2 separate regions of the Homo sapiens genome follow, and region 2 is linked to region 1. The links come from fine-mapping of genetic effects on gene expression. Tissue or cell type: whole blood. Region 1 holds a variant in brackets; the other region holds the start of a gene. All regions are shown on one strand. Distances are between the middles of the regions.

Evidence for each region. PIP is the estimated chance that this variant, and not a neighbour inherited with it, causes the effect.
Region 2: it holds the start of FGD5-AS1, and the variant in region 1 is fine-mapped to the expression of FGD5-AS1 in whole blood (INTERVAL, PIP above 0.99).

The regions. Positions count from the first base shown.
Region 1 is chr3:14,997,407-15,000,088 of GRCh38, reverse strand. All of the region lies in intron 1 of NR2C2 (nuclear receptor subfamily 2 group C member 2), which reads right to left. Among named protein-coding and RNA genes, the nearest start is that of FGD5-AS1, 50 kb to the right of the region's middle. The variant G/A (reference allele first, on the strand shown) is at 1,135.
Region 2 is chr3:14,946,907-14,949,588 of GRCh38, reverse strand. It overlaps FGD5-AS1 (FGD5 antisense RNA 1), which reads left to right and starts at 1,148. Exons shown (of 2, transcript NR_046251.1): 1 at 1,148-1,576. NR2C2 (nuclear receptor subfamily 2 group C member 2) reads right to left here and starts at 2,006. Exons shown (of 14, transcript NM_001291694.2): 1 at 1,683-2,006. RefSeq lists enhancers at 102-789, 1,144-1,343, 790-1,477, 2,166-2,682 and silencers at 944-1,003, 1,394-1,813, 1,834-1,903, 1,954-2,383.

The sequences.
Region 1 (2,682 bases):
CGAATACAGTTAATAATAGCCTATTGTACATTTCAAAATTGCTAAGAGTAAATTTCAAATGTTCTCATGGCAAAAATAAGTATTTAAGGTGATGGATATGTTAATGAGCTTGATTTAATTTTTACACATTGTAGTCACGGATCATAACATCACTTTGTACTGTAAATATATGCAATATAAACTCAATTTGTAACTTAAAAAAATTGCAGTACCGGCATAAAGACAAGACATACAGACCAATGGAATATAACAGAGAATGCAGAAATAAACCCTCACCTATATGTTCAAATTTGATAAAGGTGCCACGATAATTCAATAGGCAAAGAACAGTCTTCGACAAATGGTGATGGGACAAGTGGAAATCAAATGCAGGGGAACAAATCTGGACACCTACCTTGCACTATTACAAAAAAAAAAAATCAAAATGGATCAAAGATCTAAATGTAAGAGTTAAAACTATAAAACTCTCAGAAAACACAGGTGTAAATCTTCGTGAACTTGAATTAGGTGATTGTTTCTTAGATGACACCAAAAGCAAAAATAGCACAAGAAAAATTAGAAAATAATCATTAAAACTAGAAACTTTTTTTTTGGGGGGGACAAGATCTCTTACTCTGTTGCCTGTGCTAGAGCGCAGTAGCACAATTATGGTTCACTGCAGCCTCATCCTCCTGGGCCCAAGCAATCCTCCCAACCTCAGCTTCCTGAGCAGCTAGGATCACAGGTGTGTGCTACCATGCCGGGCCAATTTAAATTTTTTTTGTTTGTTTTTGAGACGGAGTTTCACTCTTGTTGCCCAGGCTGGAGTGCAATGGTGCGATCTCGGCTCATCGCAACCTCTGCCTCCTGGGTTCAAGTGATTCTCCTGCTTCAGCCTCCTGAGTAGCTGAGATTATAGGCATGAGCCACCACACCAGGCTAATTTTGTATTTTTAGTAGAGACAGGGTTTCTGCATGTTGGTCAGGCTGGTCTCCAACTCCTGACCTCAGGTGATCCACCCGCCTGGGCCTCCCAAAGTGCTGGGATTACAGGCGTGAGCCACTGCACCTGGCCTTAAAAAAAATTTTTTTTTTGTTTTTTGAGACACGGTCTCACTCCTGGATGCCCAGGCCAGAATGCAGGGGCACAATCTT[G/A]GCTCACTGCAGCCTCAACCAACCTCCCAGGCTCAAGTGATCTCCCTACCTCAGCCCCCCATGTAACTGGGACTATGGGCGTGCGCCACCTAATTTTAAATATTTTTGCAGAGATGAGGTCTCCCTATGTTGCCCAGGCTTGTCTCCAACTCCTGGCTCATGTGATCCTTCCTCCTTGGCCTTCCAAAGTGTTGGGATTACAGGTGTGAGCCAGCGTACCTGAACTCAAATTAATGAGTTTTGTGTTTCAAAAGACACCATCAAGGAAGTGAAAAGACAACCTATAAAATGGGGGAAAAAAAAAGTGCAAATCATATATCATTACAACTTAATAACAAGACAAAAATCCCAATTTAAAAATGAGCAAAGAGTTAAACAGAAATTTCTCCTAGAAGATATACAAATGGCCAATAAGCACAGGAAAAGATGTTCCAAGGTCATTAGTTAGGGAAATGCAAATCAAGACCATGATGAGATACCACTTCATATCCACTAGGATGGCTACAATGTTAAACATGGACAATAACAAGTATTGGTGAAAATGTGGAGATGGGAACCTTCATACATTGCTGGTAGTAATGTAGAATGGTACAGTTACTTTGGAAAACAGTCTGGTTGTTCCTCAAAGGGTAAACACAGAGTTGCCATATGACCCATAATTTCACTCCTAGGTATATACTCAAGACAAAGAAAAACACATGTCTACACAAAAGCTTGTATACAAATGTTCACAGCAGCATTAGTGATAACAGGCAAAAAGTAGAAACAACTCAAATATCTCCCAAATGATGAATGGATAAATAAAACATGGTATATCCATGTAATGGAGTATTATTTGGCAATAAAAAGGAATGAAGTGCTGATACATGCTACAACATGGAAGACTCAGCCACGAAAGACCACCATATATTGCATGATTCTATTTATTTAAAATGTCCAGAATAGGCAAATCCATGGGGACAGAAAGTAGATTAGTGGTTGCCAGGTGACAGGGGAACAGGGGTAGCAAGAATAATTGCTAAGAGATGTGGGTTTTTTAGTGGGGGCATGATAAAAACATTCTGGATTTAGATAGTGGTGATGGTTGCATACTCTTGTGAATGTACTAAAACCCACTAAGCTGTATATTTTTAAAAAATGAATTTTATGGTATGTGAATTATATCTCAATTTGATAAAATATTATCAATTAATTCATTACTGGGCTATTAAATTTTTTTTTCTTTCATAAGCATACATTTTAACAACAAATTCACTACAATGAAGTCAACAGAATCCAGTATTTTTACAGTGACTTTTAGCTTAAAAAATATGGATTAGCTCTCTCTTGGCTAAGAAATAGGCAGGACAAGCACAACCATTTTATAGGAGGTATGGTGAGGCTGAGATCCTGCAAGGTATGTCTCCCAGGATCCATGTACACATAACTGCTAGCTCTGTTTATTTATAACTGAAAAGAAAAGGCTGGCCAATCACTTTATCAGAGCATATTCATTGCATCCTTTAATAATGAACATTTAAAATTTTGGTTGAGTCTATTAGTCTGCAA
Region 2 (2,682 bases), 50 kb after region 1:
CTCCCAAGTCATGTATTCATCAGTAATTCATATGAAGGCTGTATTTTCCTCGACTTTCTTATTACATTGAAGATTTGTTCCTCACTACCGTTGCTATATTTCACAGCCTTTGGCTTGGAAACAAAGTGGGATAATGGACAATTACTAGTTCCAACCAACTCTCCAGCCACAAGCAGCCAGTTCTCGATCACATCAAATGCTCTTCCTCCAGGGCCGTTACACGGGATGTCCTGTCTGGAATGCCATTCCTCCCTTGGGTTCCTCTGTTCAAACATCACTTACTCAGAGAGGCCACCCTGACCATTCCATCTAAATTAACGCCTCAGGTCTTCTTCAGCAGGTCATTTGGCTTCTTTTCTTTCACAGAACTTATGACTCTCTGGAATTATTTGTCTATTCACCCCCCAGCCCCCAACTCTAGTGAGGGCAGGGGTCTTGTACAGCTGGTTCTCCAGATGTGTCCCCAGTGCCTAAAAAACTAAGTCAACATGTATTCAGCGAACGAATGAGAAGAGAATCACTCCCGAATTGTGCTCTCTCAAACCCCAAATACCCTTAACGCTTGCCTCTCCTGGTGGCTGTAATCCCATTTTTAACAATAACACCATTTTCAAGTGACTCTGAAGCTCGCAAAGTAGCGTTGCCTCCATTTTCTGAGTAGAGCCCCACAAACAATGCTCAGAAGGGAGGTCCGGCCTGGCAAGAATGCGCATGCCCCCCATTTACAGTCGATAAAATTGAGCCTCATTAGGGGATTCGCCAAGGCCGCTGCGAAATAACGAGCAGGAGCCCTGAAAAGTGTCCTGGTTCCGAAAACCTCTTCCCACGAGAGCGCATCGTGGACTCGAAATGCTTCATCACCTTTATTACTATTGTTCCTCAGTACTCATTCGAGACGCGTTCCAGGCGGAGGGAAGCAGCCCACCTGCTGACCCAAGACCAGGCGCCGGCCTCTCCACCCGGCCGCGCCCCTCGCGCCCCGCCCCCGGCCCCGCCCCCGCCGACCCGGCCCCACTCTTCGCCCCGGCCTCTACTCCCGCCCCGCCAGGGCTCCCGCGCCCCATAAGGACCACCCTCTTCCGCCTCAGCCAATCAGCAAAGCTTAGGGGGGCGGTGCCACAGGCCCCGGCCCTCCTATCTGGGCGCCAATTAGCCAGCCCATCCGTCGCTCACGAGGTCGCGCCTCGCACCCGCCTTCCTCCTTTTCTTTTACCCTCCCCTTCAGAAAAAACGGCGGTTGGGCTGCGACGGCCGCCAAAGGCGGACTAGAAGCGGAGGGGTGAAAATCCCGGCAGAGAAGGAAGAAGGGACTGCAGGCGGGAGGAGGAGGAGGATAAGGAGGAAGGGAGCCCGCCCAGCCGGAGCCATCTCCGTCGAGAACAAAATGGCGGCGCTGGCGGAGGGCCAACTATAAGGCGGGGCCGCGGCCATTCCCCCTCCACCCCCACCCTTGCGCCGGCCGGGCCGGTCAGGGGGAACCCGCTCGCTTCGCCCGGCCGCGGGCGGGGAGGGGAGGGGAGCGGCCCGGCCCACTATGCAAAGCGCCGGGCGCCGCCGCCGCCACCCCGTGGCAAAGGTAAAAGGGTCGGGTTCAGCCGCCGCCGCGGCGCCTCCATGTCCGCGCGCCAGGCCCGCCCCCTCCGCCGCCGGCCCGAGCCCGCCCGACCCTCTTTCAATTTTACCTCAGGATTTGGCGCCAAAGCGGCCTCGAAGCGGGTCCCGTGTCTGCGGCGGGCGGCCCCCGGCGCGGAGGGCAGGGCGCGGGGAGCCCGGGCTCCCGGTGTCGGCGGATGGCGGGAGCCCGGGGGCCGCGGGCTCGCGGGGCAGCGGGCGAGAGACGAGACGCCGAGGTGGGAGCGGGGTGGCGGGGACGGGCCCGGGGGCGCCGCCGGGGTCGCGGAGAAGGGGGGGTTTGTTATTGTTTTTGTCAGTGAAAGGTCAGAGTTCGTGACCCCGGTGCCGCCGCCGCCGCCGCCCGCGCGCTGGTAGGAGGAGGGCGAATGTTCTTCTTCCTCTTCCCAGCGCCAGCCTCGCCGCCGCGGCGGGGGGCGGGCGAGAACGCGATTGGCTGAGGCGCGCGCGCGCACCGGAACGCCGCAGCCGGCGCTCGGTCCATCCGGCCCGTGGGCTGTGGGGCCCCGGGCGGCGGCGGCTACGTAGCTGCCGCCGGCCTTGGCCGCGGCCGGGCGGGCGGATATGTGGCTTAAATGGCGCAGGCGTCGGGGCCTAGAGGCTGAAGGGCTGGTCGTCCTAAAAACTCGTGGACGTCGCGCACGGTTACCCGGACGCAGGCCCGCCCCTCTGGGGAACCGCGAGCTCCTCGCAGCTGGGTGGGGACCGTCCTCGCAGTGGCGGCCTCCACCCTGCCTTCTCGCTTAGCCAAGGCTTCTGGAAGGCTCGCAAAGTGTCTGTTGTTGGAAGAAGCCGGGCCCTGACTGGCGCGACGGATTCTCCCAGCCGCTCAGCAGAGCGTCTGTAGGTCGGAAGTGGGGGTTGTATTGGGTGGGTATTGAGCTCTTCGGCCCTTCCTCGGTACTGATAGTTTTTAATTTAGGTTTTAAAGGTCTAAAGATGCGCCCGTTCTGGCCATCTCAGGTGAAATGTTGAAACGCCCCAGAACCTATAATTTTTGGTTTCTTAGTAAACATACGATCCAGATCTTGTGTAATTCCATGCCCCTCC